3 linked regions of the Homo sapiens genome follow. The protein of the gene in region 1 interacts with the protein of each later gene in a biochemical or structural test. Each region holds a gene or a part of one and is shown on either strand. Other genes may lie near its edges.

The links.
Region 2: the proteins of CCDC120 (region 1) and CEP170 form a complex in vitro, tested with the Homo sapiens proteins (one study listed by IntAct).
Region 3: the proteins of CCDC120 (region 1) and NIN form a complex in vitro, tested with the Homo sapiens proteins (one study listed by IntAct).

What each region holds. Positions count from the first base shown.
Region 1 is NC_000023.11:49,061,869-49,065,518, forward strand, and holds part of CCDC120 (coiled-coil domain-containing protein 120), read left to right. Parts: intron 1-90; 5' UTR 91-173; coding exon 174-236; exon of another isoform or gene 237-249; intron 250-366; coding exon 367-457; intron 458-599; coding exon 600-733; intron 734-1,992; coding exon 1,993-2,133; intron 2,134-2,501; coding exon 2,502-2,796; intron 2,797-3,167; coding exon 3,168-3,230; intron 3,231-3,585; coding exon 3,586-3,650. UniProt on the Homo sapiens protein: Centriolar protein required for centriole subdistal appendage assembly and microtubule anchoring in interphase cells. Together with CCDC68, cooperate with subdistal appendage components ODF2, NIN and CEP170 for hierarchical subdistal appendage assembly.
Region 2 is NC_000001.11:243,245,281-243,248,930, reverse strand, and holds part of CEP170 (centrosomal protein of 170 kDa), read left to right. Parts: intron 1-3,650.
Region 3 is NC_000014.9:50,754,631-50,758,280, forward strand, and holds part of NIN (ninein), read right to left. Parts: coding exon 1,862-3,650; intron 238-1,861; coding exon 112-237; intron 3-111; coding exon 1-2. UniProt on the Homo sapiens protein: Centrosomal protein required in the positioning and anchorage of the microtubule minus-end in epithelial cells. May also act as a centrosome maturation factor.

The sequences.
Region 1 (3,650 bases):
TAGGTAACTGTTGCAGGCACCCAGGTGTTGACTGCGTGTCCATTGTTGTTATAGTTGGTTGAATCTGTCCCATTAATTCTCCTTCCCCAGGCAAGACTCGTGGCTGTGACCCATGGGCCTCTGAGGAGGCGTTGTAAGTCCGCCCAGCTCCCCACTTGCTGTGCTCTCACTCAATGCGAAGGGAACCAAGGTACCAGGGCCAAGTGGGTCCAGACATCCACACGGATTCTGAAAGGGCAGGTCAAGCAGGCACGTGGGGCCCAGGTTACCCCTTATTCCCCGCTGTGGCATGGGAAGCTGGGAAGGGCTGGGGGTTGGGGTATCATGGGATGTGCTTCCTTAACGGCTCCTTTGTGTCACTGCCAGACTTTGTCCAGCCATCAGCCACGGCCTCTCGACAGCACCAAGATGGAAGTCAAAGGTCAGCTGATCAGCTCTCCTACCTTCAATGCCCCAGGTCGGTGGCTGCTTCCCCTCCTGCTGCCTCCTCCCCTGCTCTGAATCACCACCTGCTTGCTCGGGAAGAGTTGGTCCCTTGCCCCACAGCTGCTCCAGAATGCCCTGGCTGTCCCACTGATCTTTGCTCCCTCTGTGTCCAGCTGCCCTGTTCGGAGAGGCTGCCCCCCAGGTGAAGTCAGAGCGTCTGCGGGGGCTGCTTGACCGGCAGCGGACCCTGCAGGAGGCCCTGAGCCTGAAACTTCAGGAGCTCCGCAAAGTGTGTCTCCAGGAGGCGGTGAGGGCCTGGCCCTAGGGGTATCAGGCGGGGAGGTTGGGAGGAGGTGAGGAGCTGGGGCCCCTAGGTAGACAGACTTGGGTGGCAATTCCTCAACCACTTGTCTTGGCTGTAGATTCCCTGTCACCTACTTTCTCCTCAAAGCTCAGCTTAGATGTGTTAGAATGAATGAAATAGGCTGGGCGCTGTGGCTCACGCCTGTAATCCCAGCACTTTGGGAGGCCGAGGCAGGTGGATCACCTGAGGTCGGGAGTTCCAGACCAGCCTGACCAACATGGAGAAATCCCGTCTCTACTAAAAATGCAAAATTAGGCTGGGCGCGGTGGCTCACGCCTGTAATCCCAGCACTTTGGGAGGCCGAGGTGGGCGGAACACGATGTCAGGAGATCGAGACCATCCTGGCTAACACGGTGTAACCCCGTCTCTACTAAAAATACAAAAAATTAGTCAGGCGTGGTGGCGGGCACCTATAGTTCCAGCTACTCGGGAGGCTGAGGCAGGAGAATGGCATGAACCCGGGAGGCGGAGCTTGCAGTGAGCCCAGATTGCGCCACTGCACTCCAGCCTGGGCGACAGAGCAAGACTCTGTCTCAAAAAAAAAAAAAAAAAGCAAAATTAGCTGGGTGTGGTGATCCTAGCAACTTGGGAGGCTGAGGCAGGAGAATCGCTTAAACCCTGGAGGTGGAGGTTGCGGTGAGCTGAGATTGCGCCATTGCACTCCAGCCTGGGCAACAAGAGCAAAACTCCACCTCAAAAAAAAAAAATATGGTAATACAGGCCCACTGTTGACAATTTCAAATCCAACAAACCTCAGAAAACAGGTTCTGTCCAAAATTTGGCAGCACAGTCTGACCTGAACTGGCACAGGCTGATCTGTAGTTTCAGTTTACCCCTCTTACTGTGAATGCCCACAGTGTGCCGGAAATAATACTACAGCTCAGACCACGCAGCCACAGCCCCTGAAGTGAGTTATATAATACTTAGGATCTCGATGGTATCACCTTTATAAAAACAAAACAATTCTGGATTCCAAAGCAGGTCTCCCTGCCTCCCATGCCCACCACCCCAGGGGTTTGGGCCACTGAGGTTTGGGCACACCTGCCTAGTGGAGATACTGGTAGGAGGGAGGGGAGTATCGTGCGTGGTTGCTGAGCAGGGCCAGGCTCCTGGTAGGACTTCTGTAGCTTCTGGGATCATTAATGCTTCACCCCATCCTTCCAACTAACCCTTGGTAGTCTCTGACCCCTGCCTCCCACCAGGAGCTGACTGGCCAGCTGCCCCCTGAGTGCCCACTAGAGCCTGGTGAACGGCCCCAGTTGGTCCGCCGGCGGCCCCCCACAGCCCGCGCCTACCCTCCACCGCACCCCAACCAAGCACACCACTCCTTGTGCCCTGCTGAGGTGAGCAGATGGGTGTGGAGAGCAAGAGGGTGGGAAGAGGGGACAGGTACAGAGGAGTAGCCAGGAGGAAGGTGTGGGGAGGGGGCTTGTGGCCAGGTGAGGGAGAGGCTAAGATGAGAAGGAAAAGGGCTTCTGGAGTTAGTTTCCTGTGATGAGGGAGGATGCTGGTCCCTAACTGTCAGGACAGGCCTCCAACCCTAAGGAAGATGAACAGACCCAGCCCTTCACCAAGAGAGGCCCTGACACGCCCCCTCCCCGGGGTGAATAGGTCTGAATAGGCTGCAGGAAGTGCAGGCCAGCCTCTACTGGGTTTGGCCCCGCCAGGTCCCTGTTCCTGGCCATTTCCAACATTTGGGTGGGCCCAACAGGAGCTGGCTCTTGAGGCCCTGGAACGCGAGGTGTCAGTGCAACAGCAGATCGCGGCGGCCGCCCGCCGCCTGGCCTTGGCCCCTGATCTGAGCACCGAGCAGCGCCGGCGCCGGCGCCAGGTCCAGGCAGATGCACTGAGGAGGCTGCATGAGCTAGAGGAGCAGCTCAGGGATGTCCGGGCCCGCCTTGGCCTCCCAGTGCTCCCGCTGCCCCAGCCACTGCCACTGTCCACGGGGTCAGTGATCACCACCCAGGGAGTCTGCCTGGGCATGCGTCTTGCTCAGCTCAGCCAAGGTGAGCATCCCCTGGTGAGGGTGGGAGAGTGGACACTGGCAAATGGACGTGGTAGGGCTGGGATGGGTGACTGGCCGGTGAAAACCGGGAGGTAGGCACAACTCAAGTGGCCCAACCCGTGAGAAGAGTTGTGACAAACTGGCTTACCGGAAAGGACAAACTGTGGGGGACTGATGAATATCTGCCAGGACAGTCAGGAACCAAACTGGGGTGGTCTTGGGCTCTGGTAAAAGCAGATTCTTGGGACAGGAACAGGATGAGGCGGAAACTGGCCAGAAGGTGGCCCAAGTAGAGGTGCCCACCCAGTGGTGTAAGGGGGCAGCACCCAGGCCTGGGAGTGAGAGGCCCACTTCTCCCCCTCTCACCTGTAGAGGACGTAGTTCTGCACTCAGAGAGCAGCTCCCTCTCAGAGTCTGGGGCCAGCCATGACAACGGTGAGGACTCCTATCCCCCAAACCTGCCCCCGACTCCTACGTCCCTTTAGCCCATCCCCTTTATTCATCCGACCACATCCTGCATGATCAGCCCATCCTTTGATGCCCAGCCCCTCCTGTGCTGCTTCAGCTTCTCCTTAGCCATGCTCCATCTTCCTATGGGTCCCCCATCTTCTTAGCCTCACCCCACCCCAGCCCCACAGCCCCAGAACCTACTTGTCAGCCTTAGTTCCTCCTCAGCCTGCTTAACCTGTCCCAGCACTTTGCCCCTCCCCATGGCCTTGCCCCCCAGCCTGTCCTGCCCCCTCTGGGCCCCCCTCATTGAATTCTATCCCACTTGCTCTCTTCCACTCAGAGGAGCCCCATGGCTGCTTCTCTCTGGCCGAGCGCCCCTCACCACCCAAGGCTTGGGACCAGCTG
Region 2 (3,650 bases), on another chromosome or scaffold:
TGCGGTGGTTCTGAGGCAGGAATGGGATAAGTGAATTTGGAGAACACTGTGGCTGAAGGTGAGTGAGGAAAAGGTGCTTATAGGAGGAAATGAGGTTGCATAGAGATTTTATTCATTGATTTTAAGTGCTATGAGCATTCATTGGAGGATTTTGAGCAAAGCCAAAAAATTGGGTTATATTTTTAAAGAATGGCTCTGGGAATTCTTTAAAACACTGGGAACCATGAGATAAGCTAGGAAATGATTGGAATGATCTGGTTTAAGAGACATTAATGGCTTAGACTAGAGCGACAGTAGTGGCAATAGTGAAAGTTACTAGTTTCTGGCTTTAGAGAGTCAAATGTTTTGGATATGTTAAGTTTGAAGTGTCTGTTAAACGCCCAAGTGGACACATCAGGTAGGCAGTTAGATATGTAAGTCAAGCATTCAGAGGAGAGGTTTGGACTGAGGATAGTTAAATGTTAAGCATCACCAGTAGACTTAAAGGGATCTCTTGGCTAGGGAGTTAGACTGAGAAGAGATCCAAGAATTGAGAATTGGTACTTTCCACATGGAAAGCTGAGCAAAAGAGAAGGCGCCATCGAGGAGGATTGAAAAGTGGACAGTGGGGTGTGAGGAAACTGAAGAGTGTGTTGTCCCACAAGCCAAGTAAAGGAAGTATTTTTAGAGATAAGGAGTGATCAGTCCCCTGTATCACCTTTAATCACCTAAATACTTCATAAGAAATCAGGCAGTATCCTCTTTCTTTCTGAATGGTCTCTGAGAAAGCAATTTCCTTTTTTAAATCTGGTTTATCAACATGAATGTTCACAGTTATTCTCCCCTGGCAACTACTAAATCTAAAGCCCTGAACAAAGTTTTACTCATAAAGAGGCCAATGCTGTTTCCTACGTGGATGAGTATGGCAGCTGCTGCTGCCTCTGATGTTTGAACAGGAGAAGCGATGCTGTTTCATAGGAAGAATTTATCAGGAAGCTAGTGATAGTCCAGCTACCTCAGAGGTTTATTGTGGTAGCCAAACGAGGTAGATGTAAAAACCAAATGAAAGGTATAATTGCAGATAGGGGTCTCCTTCCCTTATTGCCCCAAGTGTGGTACCAACTTGATAGTGTTAGATTTGAAGAACTATGTTGGCAAATAAAAATATTTTTCATTTTGAGTCTGTAGGAATAGTTTTTTACTTCCTATGCACTCTATCCCGATAGGCAGTTTCGCACATCATTTTATAATATTCTTGAGGGTAGAGAAAAGGGCTAGAAAGAGGATAAGAACAACCAGGGCAGGCGCGGTGGCTCACGCCTGTAGTCCCAGCACTTTGGGAGGCCGAAGCGGGTGGATCACCTGAGGTCAGGAGTTCGAGACCAGCCTGGCCAACATGGTGAAACCCCGTCTCTACTAAAAATACAAAAATTAGTCAGGCGTGGTGGCGCAGGCCTGTAATCCCAGCTACTCAGGAGGCTGAGGAAGGAGAATTGCTTGAGCCCAGGAGATGGAGATTGCAGTGAGCCAAGATCACGTCACTGTACTCCAGCCTGGGCAACAGGGTGAGACTCCATCTCAAAAAAGAAAGAAAAGAACAACCAGGCTTTGAGATAATAGCTTTTTTTCCCAATCCTAAACTCATCCTTTAATTCTAAACAGTGTCTAAATAAAGAGAATTGAGGTAGAAAAGTAAGCAAGTTAAAAGGCTTCCTTACTTTTTTTTTCCCTAGGCCAGCCAGGAAGACTTTCTTCTTTTAACTGACTTTTTTCTGGAAAGTGTTCAACTGAGTAATGGTTTGTCACATGTTACATGGAATAGAAAAAGTGCAAATTCAAAGCTTAGGGACTGGTTAGGGGTTTTGAACTCTAGGCAGCCAGCTAGAAACTGATTTGAGGAAGCAGGAGGGTGGGGGAAATGAGTCTGCTTGATGATAATAGGGGTAAAGTGCAAAATACTTATTTTGGTGAAAAAGGAACATCGCAAATACAGGACTTTTTGTGGTAAGCTTTTTGAGGCAATAGGACTATAACTTCACAATACATAGGTATCTTGCAGACCTTATATAATATGATTTGCTATGGCTGGTCATTAAATACTTCTCCTTGGATAAAAAATGCATATAATGCATTGCAAATTGAAGGCCATTTTATTTTTTATATTACAAATCTAATCCTAATACATGGCAGAAAATTTAGAAAACAAGATTTTCTACCATTAAGTACTATCATAATCCCACTAGCCAGTAACCCTGTTATGTATTCTTGTCTATTCTGGTTTAATTTGGTAACATTTTATCATGAAGTTAAACTTTCTGGCTCTAACTTTTAATGTGGCATAGAATCTGTCTTCTCAAACATGTAATCTACTTACACACAATTTATGAAAATTAAATGTATTTTTAAAATTGTAAACAACAGGCCGGGCCCAGTGGCTCATGCCTGTAATCCCAGCACTTTGGGAGGCCGAAGCCAGCAGATCACTTGAGGTCAGGAGTTCAAGACCAGCCTGGCCAACATGGGGAAACCCTGTCTCTACTAAAAATACAAAAATTAGCTGAGCGTGGTGGTGCACACCTGTAATCCCAGCTACTCGGGAGGCTGAGGCAGGAGAATCGCTTTAATCCAGGAGGCAGATGTTGTAGTGAGCTGAGATTGCTCCACTGCACTCCAGCCTGGGTGGCAGAGCGAGACTCTGTCTCAAAAAAAAAAAAAAAAAAAAAAAGTAAACAACACTGTAATGGACATTTCTAACTCTGAATTTCTGTGCAAATCAATGTTTTTCTTTGATTTCAACAAATTATGCTTAAAATACAATGCAGATACAAATGCAGAATTCTACTAATTAAACCTTTTCTAACTTTTTAATAAAATTACCCCCTCCAGTTTATATCAGTTTATTCTTCTACCACTGGCATATGAAACTGTGTGTTTCTTCACCCCTTCATCAGTGCTGAATATTACGTATCTTTTTTAAAATTTGCTTTCTTTTTTCTTTTTTTTTTTGAGACGAGGTCCCGCTCTGTTACCCAGGCTAGAGTGGAGTGGTGTGTTCATGGCTTGCTGCAGCCTTTACCTCCTGGGCTCAAGGGATCCTCTCCGCTCAGTCTCCCAGGTAGCTGGGACTGTAGGCATGGGCTGCCATGCCCATCTAAGTTTTTTTGTTTTCTTTTCTTTTTTGTGTTTTTTTTGTTTTGTTTTTTGTTTTTTGTTTTTTGTTTGTTTGTTTTGTTTTCTTGAGATGGAGTCTTGCTCTGTCGCCCAGGCTGGATTGAAGTGGCGAGATCTCGGCTCACTGCAACCTCTGCCTCGCGGGTTCAAGCAATTCTTCTGCTTCAGCCTCCTGAGTAGCTGGAATTACAGGCACACACCACCACACCTGGCTAATTTTTGTATTTTTAGTAGAGACGGGGTTTCACCATGTTGGTCAGGCTGGTCTTGAACTCCTGACCTCGTGATCCGCTCACCTTGGCCTCCCAAAGTGCTGGGATTACAGGCGTGAGCCACCGCACTGGCCAAGGTTTTTTATTTTTTTATAGAGACAAGGTCTCATTTTGTTCCCTAGGCTGGTCTCAAACTCCTGGGCTCTAGCAGTTTTCCTGTCTCAGCATCCCAAAGTGGTGGGGTTACAGGCATGAGCCACCCAATCTGGACAGTTTTGCCACTTTGAT
Region 3 (3,650 bases), on another chromosome or scaffold:
GCCTAAAAGGAATGATGAAAATAAAATTTAATGGTTAGGCTTTAAAAGCTGAAGTAAAAGAATTTTAGTCTTTGCAAAAATGTCTTAGGAAAATGTAAGTATACGTCTTACCACATTTCTTCCTGAGATCCATTTAATGTCCCTAATTTCAGGTTAGAAATGCTATCTTCTTCATTTAAAGTAGTAATTTCATTTCTCAAAATAGAATTTTCCTGTTGAAGCTTTTCAGATTCATATCTGAAGCACAGAGATTGAAAAAAATTGTTACAAGGCAGTCATCTGGCATCTTTGGAAAATATTTTCTAGTAACTTCCAAAAGGATGAGTATTCAATGCCAGTTAAAAAGAAAAGTCTAAATTAGTAGTCTCTTAGTATTTGGAAATCGAGTTATGACATATTGACACATTTCTTTTGGGAAGTAAGAATTTCACTAAAAGATGTTAGAGAAGTGTAGCTAAAAAACCCTTAAGCCTGGAGAAATGAATCAAGACTCAATGCTCATTCTGGTTGTTGATTTTTCTCAATGGCAAGCATACTGCTTTGAGCAAATGTCTTCATTTATCTCAGTCTCAAGTCCTACCTGTTCTGAATACACATAAGCCATGTTACAAAGCTATATTAGCTTAGTTTTAGGCCCCTGGGTACCTAGGGAAAGAAAATTCTCTATTGAAATCAAAGGGCCACAATGAAATATGTACACTGTTTACTTTGTGATTTTATTCATCTCATTATATTCTGATTTTTAGGACTAAAAATGGTCTGAAGAAGAGGAAAAACTACATTCAGAATTAAATTATTTCAGAGACATTTCAGACGTCCTGTAATAGTTTACAAGTTTTTTTTTTTTTTGAAAAACCAAATTTGCTAGAAGACTATGCAATTATATTTTACAATGTCAAGTGGGCAGTGGTTCAAATTAATTCTACTTGTATCTCTGCTTTTCAAGCATATTTATTAGAATCTGGAGGCTCCTCAAATTATATGTTCTAAGATAAATTTCCACTGTTTGTTTTGTCTCTTTTTTTTTTTTTTTTTTTTTTTTTTTTTTAAAAGAGACAGGGTCTCACTCTGTCACCCAGTCTGGAGTACAATGGCATGATCATGGCTCACTGCAGCTTTGACCTCTCAAGCTCAAGCAACCCTCCCACCTCGGCCTCCCAAGTAGCTGGGACCACAGGTGTGCACCACCACGCCCAGCAAACATTTTTTTATTTTTCTGTAGAGGCAGTCTTGCTATGTTCCCTAGGCTTGCCTGGAAACTCCTGGCCTCAAGAAATCCTCTTGCCTTGGCCTCCCAAACAGTTGAGATTGCAGGCATTTAAGCCATGGTGCCTGACCATTTGCACTGTTTATGGGTTATCAGCATGTGCTTCAAGTGATATGAGTACAAAACTATAAAGACAGAACATTTTTTCTATATTAGCATAAGAAGTGAGTTCTTATCTACTAAGTTAATAATACACAAAAAATCATTCATTTGTATATAACATGTTTCCTCAAAATGAGGAAAGTAACACTTAGCAAAATAAAAAAAAAAAATCCCCTATCCATCTAAATGAAATAAGTGCTAGAAAAAAGTTAAAGAGGTACATTGAGGATGCACATGGTTAAACAGCAAACACTCGCCATTGTGAACTTTCACACCCCATATGAACACTTGTTTGCTACAGCGGAAGGGAATGCCTCCTAAACAAGGTTATTTTATTTGTTAATACGGCACAGAAGCAGAAGGAAGTCTAGAGAGTACTGCTCTCTTCGTGAAGACTACTAGGTTAGTTTCTCTAGGCACGGCAAGCAGTGGAAGTTAGATCTGGTGAGGTGCTCTGTGGGATTCGTGACGTCTAGAAGGTACATACATTACCTCAGAAGTTCAACTTTTTGCTGCATCTCACTGCACGTGATCTGCAAGTCATGCATCATTGCCTTCAGCTCTTCCTCCTTTTCTCCGTGAGAAAGTACATCTTTTTGCTTAACTAAAATAGTGACTCTCTCCTTCAACTTCCTAGTCAGCTCCTGTAACTTTGTTTTCTCCAGTTCTAACTCTGCTATGGTGGCCTGATGCTGAAAATGTTTGTCTTGAAAGCCTAGGAGAGTAGTGTTTTCCTCCAGTATAACTTGATTCTGTACTCTTGGCCTTTCTTGATGTGTCTGAATTGTTCCATGTAACCAGGCAATTTCATGTGCTTTTACTTTTTCCAAGAGCTGTGTGTTCCCCTCAAGGTACTGGTTTTCTTGCTTACATTCCTCTATGACATGATGTACACTCCTAACCCTGGGCACACACTCTTCCAGTGTCTGATTGAGCTGGAGTATATTTCCATCAGGTTCGATTTCCAGGTTCTCTAAACTGGCTTCCCATAAGCAGCAGTCACACCGCTGGACCACGCTTTCCTGAAGCTTCTCAATCTTGCCTTGAAGTCTCAAAACCAGAACATTCAGCCCCTCATTTTCTATTTTGACCTCATCGTAACTCTTTTCCAGGCTGAGGAATGTTTCAGTGACTTCCTCCATTTTCTTCAGCTCATCCTGCAACCTGAAAACCTCTGCAGTGAGTTCTTTGTTATTTTCTAGTGCCTCATCGTAGCGTGTCTCCATCATTCTCAGCTCTTCCTGAAGGCAGTCATTTTCTCGGCTCACATCTTCATACAACAGCTTATATTTGGGAGAAGCCTCAGGGATTCTCTCAAGCATCTTCAGTTTCTTTTTTAGCACAGAAACATCAAAAAGTAGGTCCTGTTTCTTTTCAGAAGCTCGATCACAGTCCGCACATAACATCATTAGCTGTTCCTGAAGCTGACTAATCTGATTCTTCAGCTCCCAGGATTCAGTCCTGGTCTCTTCACTGTTTTCAAGCTCAGAAAAACCCTCTACTGAAGCTTCAGACTCCTCTATTTTGACTTCCTGTCTCTGAACAGAGCTCGTCCCTGTACTTCCCAGGTCCCGGACCTCATCATCTTCCAGGTCACTTAGGACATGCCGCCTGGTCACACCTTCTACTTGCTTCGTTCGGTTTTGCTGTAAAAACTGCTCTGTTTGTTCCGCAGTATTTCCAAAAAACTCAGTAGCTGGCTCATCCAAACAAGAAGACATTACTAACCCTGGCTCTAACTTTTGTAGCCTCTGTTGCAATCTAGAAATTTCAGTAGCCATTTTCACATTTTCCTTCACTGCCTGTTCATGAGCTCTCTGCAGGCTTAAGAGGACGTCCCCATTTTCTTCCAACAGCTGCTCCCCTTGCTGAAGCAGGGACAGGGCTCCATCTCCTTCCACCTCCTCCTCTCCTATCACCTGGCAACCACTCTGAAGCATTGAGAGAGGAGATGTTGCCTGCTGCATTTCCTTTATTTTACTCTGAAGTCTGGAGATTTCTGTGCTCATCTCGGCTCTTTCTCGATCTGCTGTCTCACAGGTCGCTTTGTGAATGTTCTCCATGGCTAGAAGCTTGGACATCATTTCCTGCCTTTCCTGGTCATGTTCCATTTCTAGTCTTTCCAGCCGCTGGCTGGCCAGCTGCTCCGAAGCCCCTGCCTGGCACAGGACCTCCTCACGCTCCCTCAGTTCCCTTTTGTGACTGCTCTTCAGCTCAAGTATCTGGTCAGACAGCAGGCTTTGCTGGGTTTCAGATACATTTCTTAGGTCTTCCAGGTCTT